Regions from separate parts of the Homo sapiens genome. Here region 1 is linked to region 2. Evidence: fine-mapped expression QTL. A gene starts in region 2. The other region holds a variant in brackets. All regions are shown on one strand. Distances are from middle to middle.

Region 1 (5,367 bases), 63 kb after region 2:
TGCTCCCAGTCTATAGGAGACAGGTATGAGTCAGTGTAATGTGAGGTCATGTGACATCTTCATCAGCGCCATGAAAATGATAAAACAGGCTGGGTGTGGTGGCTCATGCCTGTAATCCCAGCACTTTGGGAGGCCGAGGTGGGTGGATCACCTGAGGTCAGGAGTTCAAGACCAGCCTGACCAACGTGGCAAAACCTCATCTCTACTAAAAATACGAAAATTAGCTGGGTGTGGTGGCCTGTAATCCCAGCTACTCAGGAGGCTGAGGCAGGAGAATCACTTGAACCTGCGAGGCGGAGGTTGTGGTGAGCTGAGATTGCATCATTGCACTCCAGCCTGGGTGACAACAGCAAAACTCCATCTGAAAAAAAAAAAAAAAAAGAAAATGATAAAACAAAGGCACCTGACTTTGAGGGACTGGAGTGGGGGATAAGGGGACTCTCTTGGATAAAATGGTCAGGGAAGAGCTGTCTAGGATGTGACGTTTGACCAAGGAACTGAAGATGGAGGAGGAGGAAGTCACGCCATGCAAAGAACTGGGGGAAGAGCATTCAGGCAGAGACCAGCCTGTGCAAAGGCTGAGGCAGCACATACATAGTCAATTTCCTGCTCTCACATCTGCTCTCACGTGGCCCATCCTGGCTGCCCCTGAATGGTGGCAAGTCCACGTTGGGGGTAAAGGGAGGCACTGCTATTTGAGCAGAAACTTGAATAATTTCCTGGCTAATAGAGGACTTGAGATAATAATAATATTAACTAAGCTTTCTGGAAGATGTCGCGTGGTCAGAACCTGCACTAAGTAGTTTACCTGTGTGATTCTGAATCCTCATGTTAGTTCCTGAGGTAGGAGCTCACACCTCATTTTGTAGAGGAAGCTCAGAGACGGTAAGTGACTTGCCCAAGGCTGCACAGCCAGTGAGTAACAGCTGAGATTCAAATCAACTCTATGTGACTCTACACTCCATGCTCTAAAATCATGCCCATGGCCAGGCGTGGTGGCTCACACCTGTAATCCCAGCACTTTGGGAGGCTGGGGTGGGTGGGTCACTTGAGGCCAGGAGTTCGAGACCAGCCTGGCCAACATGGTGAAACCCCGTCTCTACTAAAAGTACAAAAATTAGCCGGGCATGGTGGTACGAGACTGTAATCCCAGCTACTCAGGAGGCTGAGGCAGGAGAATCGCTAGAACCCGGGAGGCAGAGGTTGCAGTGAGCCAAGAATGCACCACACTGTACTCCAGCCTGGGTGACAGAGCAAGACTCCATCTCAAAAAATAGAAAATAGGCTGGGCGTGGTGGCTCACGCCTGTAATCCCAGCACTTTAGGAGGCCGAGGTGCGCGGATCATGAGGTCAGGAGATCGAGACTAGCCTGACTAACATAGTAAAACCCCGTCTCTGCTAAAAATACAAAAAAAAAAAAAAAAAAAAAAAGCCGGGTGTGGTGGTGTGCACCTGTAATCTCAGCTACTCGGGAGGCTGAGACAGGAGAATCACTTGAACCCAGGAGGCAGAGGTTGCAGTGAGCCAAGATTGTGCCACTGCACCCTAGCCTGGGTGACAGAGCAAGACTCCGTCTCAAAAAAATAAAAATAAATAAAATAAAATAAAATAAAATATTAAATAAAAGTATCTTAGCCCAACAAGGTAGGCATTATTATTGTGCCCATTTTACAGATGAAGAAGCCAAGGCACAAAAAGGTGAAGTAATAGGCTTATGGCCCCACAACTAGCAAGTTGCAGAGCCAGGATTTGAACAGAGGCAGTGAACCCAGAGCTCCAGCCACAGCCGCCCAGGACTCAGTCTCCCCCTACAGCCCGGGAGCCTCTGGAGGGTCCAAAGTCTAACTCTGTCTTTGGGTCCCCAGGTTCATCCAGCACAGATGCCTAAGAAGGATTTTCCCAGTTCAAGTGACTTGAGGTTGGCCCTGCCACTGACCTAGAGCGTGTCCCTTCCTCTCTGCCAGCCTCAGTATCCCCATCTGCCAAATTGGGGGGACCTTGGCACCCTACTGGCTTCACAGATCCCATGAGATAAGGGGTGCAGGAAAACTACCTTTCAAGGGGCAAAGGTCTGGCTGCCAGGAGCCACTCCCTGAGAACAGAGGAGGACAGATCTAGCAGCGGAACAGGTTCGCGTCTATAAATCCCCAGCCAGAGACCAGCGCAGGCAGCCCTGGGTGGGACACCTGGCTGCAGCTGCCTTCCGTTGCTGTGTGATTCTAAGGCTCACTGGCGGCCTCTGGGCTTCCCCTTGTCCTGTCTATGGAATGAC[G/A]GGAGGTCGGTTTCGATTCCTCCACGATTCTGTGAAGGGCTGAGCTTTCCTGGGGAGGTGAAAAGGGGCTTCCCTGAGGACCCAGCATTACTGTACCTCCTCACTTAGGAAGCAGGGGTGAATCTGGGATTTTGGGTGGTCACTGTGGGAGGACAGGGCTGGGGTACAGAGCAAGAGGCTGCCTGGGTTCAGATCAGCCTCTTTGCATCTTTTTGTTGTTGTTGTTGTTTGTTTTTGAGACAGTCTCGCTCTGTTGTCCAGGCTGGAGTGCAGTGACGCAATCTCAGCTCACTGCAACCTCTGCCTCCTGAGTTCAAGCGATTCTCCTGCCTCAGCCTCCCGAGTAGCTGGGATTACAGGTGCCCACCACGATACCCAGCTAATTTTTGTATTTTTAGTAGAGACGGGGTTTCGCCATGTTGGCCAGGCTGGTCTCGAACTCCTGACCTCAAGTGATCTGCCCACCTCAGCCTCCCAAAGTGCTGGGATTACAGGCGTGAGCCACCAGGCCTGGCCACCTCTTTGTATCTTTAAACACCAGCCAGTGACCTCCAGGACCCTGGGGTGGACTTCAGGGAGGGAACACACCCCAATTTGTTTGGAAATTTGGGCATCCACTTTTTCCTGGTGCTAAGACCCCTTTCTAATGGGTTCCCAAAAAGACTTCATAATCCCTGGTCTAAATGTTTTTCGGGAGGCATTTGGCTTAGTTGGAGGATACCCTGATGCTGGGACCCCAACATTAGAGGTTGAAAGGATGGTAGCCCAGAGGAGAAGATGAGGTTTGGGGTTTAGTGCCCCAGCAAGTCAGAGCCCAGGGTTTCCCAGGACGGAGGAAGACGGAAGGGTCACAGGAGGGACAGGGTTGGGGAATCTGTCTTAAAAGATGAAAAGTTGTGACCACTTTCTGGACCTTACCTTTCTCTTTCTCTTTCTCTTCCTTCCACAGATGAATTGGGTGAGTATCACAGGGCAGGTTTGCGGGGAGGCTGAGGGACCCAAGTGCCTACAGAAGGGGGTCTTGGCCTTCCTTGTTCAGTGGGGGTGGGGGAGAGGTGTCACTGTGTGACTTCCAGGACTGTGGAGGGATTTGAACGAAGTCATGCTCCTAAGGTACTTAGCAGTGCTTGACACTTGGAAAACACTCAGCACGCCGGGGGCTGTGTGACTCACACCTGTAATCCTGGCACTTTGGGAGGCAGAGGCAGGAGGACTGCTTGAGGCCAGGAGTTCAGGACTAGCCTGGGTAACATAGTGAGACCCCCATCTCTACACAAAATTTTTAAAAATTAGCCGGGCATGGTGGTGCGCACCTGTAGTCCCAGCTGCTCAGGAGGCTGAAGTGGGAGGATCACCTGAGCCTGGGAGGTTGCCTTGGAAGCCGAGGCTGCAGTGAGCTATGATTGCACCACTGCACTGCAGCCTGGGCGGCAGAGCAAGACCGTGTCTCAAAAAGAAAACCAATTAAAATAAAATAATGTTATTAATCCCCTAGTGAGTACAGACAGACACTGTTTTAGGCCCTGGGGATTTAGCCATGAACAAAACCAAGTCCCTGCCCTCGCAGAGCTGATAGCCCGGTGTGGGAGACAGAGGAAAATGAACAGATGAGCAAGATAATGTTAGCCTGGGCTGAGAGCTGTGAAAGAAATAAACAGGACGAGGGAGAGATGGCCTGGAGAAGACACATTAGGTTAGGCTTTTCTGAAGAGATAACATACGAGCTGAGACCAGGAGGAGAAGCAGCCAGCATGGGTTGAATGGGGGACCGTGTGGAACAGGCAGTTGGAGGAGCAAGTTCTTTCTTATTTATTTATTTAAGTTATTTTTTGAGACAGAGTCTCGCTCTGTCGCCCAGGCTGGAGTGCAGTGGTGCTGTCTCAGCTCACTGCAACCTCCACCTCCCAGGTTCAAGCAATTCTCCTGCCTCAGCCTCCCGAGTAGCTGGGAGTACAGGCATGCACCAACATACCTGGCTCATTTTTGTATTTATTTATCTATTTATTTAGAGATGGAATTTCGCTCTTGTTGCCCAGGCTGGAGTGCAATGGCATGATCTTGGCTCACTGCAACCTCCACCTCCCAGGTTTAAGTGATTCTCCTGCCTCTGCCTCCCGAGTAGCTGGAACTGCAGGCACACATCACCATGCCCAATTTTTATATTTTTAGTGGAGATGGGGTTTCACCATGTTCGCCAGGCAGGTCTCAAACTCCTGACCTCAGGTGATCCGCCTGCCTCGGCCTCCCAAAGTGCTGGGATTACAGGCGTGAGCCACCATGCCCAGCCTATTTATTTATTTATTATTATTATTTTTTGAGATGGAGTCTTGCTCTGTTGCGCAGGATGGAGTGCAGTGACGCAATCTCGGCTCACTGCAACCTCCGCCTGACGGTTTCAAGCGATTCTCCTGCCTCAGCCTCCTGAGTTGCTGGGACTACAGGCACGTGCCACCATGCCTGGCTAATTTTTTGTATTTTTAGTAGAGACAGGGTTTCACTGTGTTAGCCAGGATGGTCTCGATCTCCTGACCTCATGATCCGCCCGCCTCGGCCTCCCGAAATGCTGGGATTACAGGCATGAGCCACCGCGCCCAGCCTATTATTTATTGAGAGACGGAGTCTCACTCTGTCGCCCAGGCTGGCGTGCAGTGTCACGATCTTGACTTACTGCAGTGTCCGCCTCCTGGGTTCAAGCTGTTCTCCTGCCTCAGCCTCCTGAGTAGCTGGGATTACAGACGTGGGAGACCATTCGGGCTAATTTTTGTAGAGACGGGGTTTCACTATGTTGGCCAGGCTGGTCTCGAACTCCTGACCTCAATTGATTCACCCACCTTGGCCTCCCAAGGTGTTGGGATTACAGGCGTGAGCCACCGCACCTGGCCTCCCTGACTCTGTGTGTGTGTGTGTGTGTGTGTGTGTGTGTGTGTGTGTGTGAGAGAGAGAGAGAGAGAGAGAGAGAGAGAGAGAGAGATAAATGGGATGGAAAACGTCTCGGGGGTAATCAAGCCTTTTTTTTTTTTTTTAATTTTTTAAAGAATGGGCGTCACCACCCGTTTTTTCTTCTCCCGCAGAGATCATCGACGAGTACATCAAG
Region 2 (5,323 bases):
ATGTAGTAACTCTTAATTCTCACGATAACCCTGAGGTAGATATTATTACCCCGTTCTACAAAAGGAGAAACAGTCCTGGGGAGACAGGATAAGTCACCGGCCAAGGCACACAGCTAGCTACATGTGGCCCCCGCGTGACGGCTGGTCTCTGTAGGCGAGGCTTTGTCCAGATGCGTGGGTAGAAGGTCTGGCCCGGAAAGAGGAACTGACAGCAAGGCTAAGCCAATGTCTGCCCCTGGGGGCAGAAAGTCACCTCCTGCTCTCCCTCCACTGTCCACAGAGGTAGCTCAGACAGGGTGGGGGTCACAGGAGAACGAAGGGAGAAGGGGGTAGTTCCTGGGCAGCAAAATCAGGTGGTGAAGGGAGGCATCAGAGGATGGCAATTAGAGAGGCCATTAGAGGGGAACCACAGGCAGACAGGGTGACAGGAGGGACTACTGACACAAGGTGAAGAGATGGCCCAGCCGGACGGGGTGGCTCACATCTGTAATCCCAGCATTTTGGGAGCCCGAGGTGGGTGGATCACTTGAGGTCAGGAGTTCGAGGCCCCAACATGGCAAAACCCCATCTCTTCTAAAAATACAAAAATTAGCCGGGCATGATGGCAGATGCCTGTAATCCCTGCTACTCGGGAGGCTGAGGCAGGAAAATTGCCTGAATCCAGGAGGTGGAGGTTGCAATGAGACGAGATCATGACACTGCACTCCACCCTGGGCAACAGAGCAAGAGACTGACTCTGTCTCATAAAAAAAAAGAAAAAAGAAAAAAAAAAAGAGATGGCTGATGGTTAAAGAGGGGTTAGCGGTCAGGGGACACATAAGGGTAAAGGCAGGAGGCAAGAGGACTGGCAGGGGGCTGCCCCTGGGCCACCGGGAGCGACACAGGATGAGCATGGAGGGAAAGGGAGAAGGGGATTCTAGGGTCCCAGCCTACCCAAGTTGCCCTCTGGTTCCACCTAGCATGCCAGCCAGAGGCCCAGGAAGGAACCCTGAGCCCCCCACCAAAGCTAAAGATGAGTCGCTGGAGCCTGGTGAGGGGCAGGATGAAGGAGCTGCTGGAGACAGTGGTGAACAGGACCAGAGACGGGTGGCAATGGTTCTGGTGAGGGTGTGCTGGGCTGGGTGGTGGGAGGGGACTCCTGGGTCTGAGGGAGGAGGGGCTGGGGCCTGGACCCCTGAGTCTCAGGGAGGAGGAAAGGGTGGGAGTGGGGCTGTGACCCCTAGGTCTGGGAGGAGTGGAGGGTTAGAGCTGAGAGCAGGAACTCCTAGGTCACAGAGAGGAGCGGATAAATGGGGCAGAGAACACCTGGGGAGAGCTGGGGCCTCCACTGTGATGTCCTCTCTCCTGTAGGAGCCCGAGCACCTTCCGGGGCTTCATGCAGACCTACTATGACGACCACCTGAGGGACCTGGGTCCGCTCACCAAGGCCTGGTTCCTCGAATCCAAAGACAGCCTCTTGAAGAAGACCCACAGCCTGTGCCCCAGGCTTGTCTGTGGGGACAAGGACCAGGGTTAAAATGTTCATAAAAGCCAGGTGTGGTTGTGGCGGGTGCCTGTAGTCCCAGCTACTCAGGAGGCTGAGGTAGGATGATGGCTTGAGCCCAGGAGTTCGAGACCAGCCTGGGCAACACAGCGAGATCTCTTGGGGGTAAAACAAAAAGAAAAAAAAAAGTTCATACTTCTCCAATAAATAAAGTCTCACCTGTGTCCCTGTCTGGATCCTTCCCCAGTGTGGCCAGAAAAAAACCCACCCCACTGCCTCCCAGGAATCAATGAGTAGAAGAGGTGACACCTGATGGGGAAGGAAGAGTAGGGAGGTCGGGAAGGGTATCAAGGAATAACACCCTATTGTGGGCTTGCGGAGAATGGGGGACTTCAAGGCGTGTCAGTTTCAGGAGGGTGAGGGCAGGAGCGTGGGTGGAGTCAGCAGGTCCCCATGATGGCCCTCACTGAGAGCTTCGCCCTTGTCTCCTACAAGCTCTGACTCCATTCCCAGTGGGCACCCAGCACCTCCAACCCCTCCACAGCCCCCAACCCAGCCTCTGTCGGAGGCGAATTCTCAGAGTGAGGGTTCCCTGTCACTTGAGAGAAGGTTCCCTGTGACGTGACCTTGGGGGACGTCATTGCCCTTTCTGTCCCCACCCACCCCCTCCGCAGTTCTGTTGGCCAGGACTTTGGCCTAGACAAAGGATGGGGGTTGTGGCTGTGGAGCGGAAGTGGGTCTCAACCACTATAAATCCTCTCTGTGCCCGTCCGGAGCTGGTGAGGACAGCCTGCCAGAGTCTGGTAAGAAAGGGACTCAGGGTGCGGGGACAGGGGGGCGTCAGCAGGGAGAGGGCAAAGATCGATAAAGCAGGAATTTTAAGAGGCACAATATTAGAAGCCCGTGTTGGAACCATGACTGTGTGTGTGTGTGTGTGTGTGTGTGTGTGTGTGTGTGTGTGTGAGAGAGAGAGAGAGGGAGATGGAGTCTCGCTATGTAGCCCAGGCTAGACTCAAACTCCTGGGCTCAAGCAATCCTCCTGCCTCAGCCTCCCCAGTAGCTGGGACTACAGGTGCACCACCACACTCCACAAATCACAGAATTTAGAACTGTAGACTATTTGAGCTTCTGCTTAGAGTTAGGGTGGCTGAGGTGGGGAGGATCCCTTGAGCCCAGGAGTTTGAGGATGCAGTGAGCTGTGATCTTGCCACCGTGTTCCAGCCTGGGTGACAGAGAAACCCCATTTCTAAAAAAGAGAAAGAAAAAGGGATAGGTACAATGGCTCATGCCTGTAATCCCAGCACTCTGGGAGGCCGAGGCGGGTGGATCACTTGAGGTCAGGAGTTCGACACCAGCCTTACCAGCATGGTGAAACCGCATCTATACTAAAAATACAAAAATTGGCCGGGTGTGGTAGCATATGCCTGTAATCCCAGCTATTCCAGAGGCTGAGACAGGAGAATTGCTTGAACCCAGGAAGCGGAGGTTGCAGTGAGCCCAGATCGTGCCACTGTACTCTAGCCTGGGTGACAGAGCAAGACTCAGTCTTGGCGGAAAAAAAGAATGAAAAAATTTAAAAAACTAAAAAAGAACTGTAGGCTGGGCGTGGTGGCTTACACTTGTAATCCAAACGCTTTGGGAGGCCAAGGCAAACGGATCACTTGATGTCAGGAGTTGGAGACCAGCCTGGCCAACATGGTGAAACCCCGTCTCTACTAAAAATACAAAAATTAGACAGGCATGGTGGTGCATGCTTGTATTTCCAGTTACTCAGGAGGCTGAGGCAGGAGAATCGCTCGAACCCGGAAGACAGAGGTTGCGGTGAGCCAAAATTGCGCCATCGCACTCCAGCCTGGGCGAGAGAACAAGACCTTGTCTTGGAAAAAAAAAAAGAATTGTAGACCATTTGCTTGTGTTCTTTCTCCGGGGATCAGATCTCACCCTCTTTCTGCCGTACTTCCTCATCTCCTACGTGTGGATGATGATATTGTGCCCTGTGCATGTTCTTCGTCACCAAAAGTGCCTCTCTCATAGAGCAGGTGAGAACTCAGTGAGGAGATGCAGGGACATGAGGTCTGACTTAGGGCAGAGCCCTAAGGTAACACATTTGATCTACTGTAGGTCCTTAATGGTGTCTGCAGAGCACCTCCCTGCACTGACTCAGCCTTAGCAAAGGGCAGAGGCTTTGCTGTGTTCCCTGCTGGGCCCAGAACTGTTTAGGTGCTCAAGAAAGCCTTCTAGGCTGGGCTCAGTGGCTCACACCTGTACTCCCAGCACCCTGGGGAGGCCGAGATGGGAGGATCGCTTGAGCCCAGGAGTTCCAGACCAGCCTGGGCAACAAAACAAGTCTCCCATCTCTACAAAAGAATAAAAATTAGCAGCTGGGCATGGTGGCTCATGCCTGTAATTCCAGCACTTTGGGAGGCCAAGGCAGGCAAATCACTTGAGGTTAGGAGTTCAAGACCAGCCTGGCCAACATGGTGAAACCCCATCTCTACTAAAAATACAAAAATCAGGTGGGGCACAGTGGCTCAAGCCTGTAATCCTAGCACTTTGGGAGGCCAAGGTGGGCGGATCACGAGGTCAGAAGTTCGAGACCAGCCTGGCCAGCATGGTGAAACCCCATCTCTACTAAAAATACAAAATATTAGCCGGGCATGGTGGCAGGTGCTTGTGATTCCAGCTCCTTGGGAGGCTGAGGCAGAAGAATTGCTAGAACCCTGGAGGCAGAGGTTGCAGTGAGCCGAGAACACGCCACTGCACTCCAGCCTGGGTGACAGAGCGAGACTCCATCTCAAAAAATACGAAAACAAAAATCAGCCGGGTGGTGGCGGGTGCCTGTAATCCCAGCTACTGGGGAGGCTGAGGCAGGAGAATTGCTTGAACCTGGGAGGTGGGGGTTGCAGTGAGCCAAGATTGCACCACTGCACTCCAGCCTGGGCAACAGAGTGAGATTCCATCTCAAAAAAGAAAAAAATAATAATTAAAATGTTAAAATCAGGAGTAGAATCACAGAATGTTGGAAAGTGAGGCCCAAGAAGGGGGCTGTGTCCAAGTCCATGCATGGGAAACTTGACTGGGACACCGAGCTCACACAGAGCAGGATCTCAGTCCCCCCCACCAGAGTGGGGCGTGACCACAGGAACAGCCGCCTCCAGTCAGCCTGCCACATGACACCCCCTCAATGTTCCAGGTCTCTGGACACTATGGGCACACGACTCCTCCCAGCTCTGTTTCTTGTCCTCCTGGTATTGGGATTTGGTGAGTGTGGGCTTCCGGGGAGGGAAGCCTTGGGGAGGGGAATGAGCTCCAAGCATCTTCCCAGCCCAGGCCCTTCTTACCTCTGCCTCTGCCCTCTCCTCTTCTTCCTTCCTCCTTTCCCCCTGCTGCAGCCCCACGGGCTCTCCTGACACACTCTCCCCCTGCAGAGGTCCAGGGGACCCAACAGCCCCAGCAAGATGAGATGCCTAGCCCGACCTTCCTCACCCAGGTGAAGGAATCTCTCTCCAGTTACTGGGAGTCAGCAAAGACAGCCGCCCAGAACCTGTACGAGAAGACATACCTGCCCGCTGTAGATGAGAAACTCAGGTAGCACCTGCCCCTGGAGAAATGGGGTCTGGCCCATACCACCGACTGCATCCAGGACCCAGAAGTTCAGGCCCCAGCCCCTCCTCCCTCAGACCCAGGAGTCCAGGCCTCAGCCCCTCCTCCCTCAGACCCAGGAGTCCAGGCCCCCAGCCCGTCCTCCCTCAGACCCAGGAGTCCAGGCCCCCAGCCCCTCCTCCCTCAGACCCAGGAGTCCAGGTCCCCAGACCCTCCTCCCTCAGACCCAGGAGTCCA

What was found. PIP is the estimated chance that this variant, and not a neighbour inherited with it, causes the effect.
Region 1: its variant is the best candidate, but not a certain one, in a credible set for the expression of APOC2 in lung (TOPMed, PIP 0.59).

Annotation. Positions count from the first base shown.
Region 1 is chr19:45,006,592-45,011,958 of GRCh38, forward strand. RELB (RELB proto-oncogene, NF-kB subunit) reads left to right here. Exons shown (of 12, transcript NM_006509.4): 3 at 3,223-3,231; 4 at 5,345-5,367. Among named protein-coding and RNA genes, the nearest start is that of RELB, 7.8 kb to the left of the region's middle. RefSeq lists a silencer at 530-679 and an enhancer at 5,042-5,367. The variant G/A (reference allele first, on the strand shown) is at 2,274.
Region 2 is chr19:44,943,790-44,949,112 of GRCh38, forward strand. APOC2 (apolipoprotein C2) reads left to right here and starts at 2,262. Exons shown (of 4, transcript NM_000483.5): 1 at 2,262-2,286; 2 at 4,677-4,744; 3 at 4,912-5,071. The coding sequence starts at 4,690. It overlaps APOC4 (apolipoprotein C4), which reads left to right. Exons shown (of 3, transcript NM_001646.3): 2 at 960-1,101; 3 at 1,351-1,707. The coding sequence ends at 1,516. It overlaps APOC4-APOC2 (APOC4-APOC2 readthrough (NMD candidate)), which reads left to right. Exons shown (of 6, transcript NR_037932.1): 2 at 960-1,101; 3 at 1,351-2,286; 4 at 4,677-4,744; 5 at 4,912-5,071.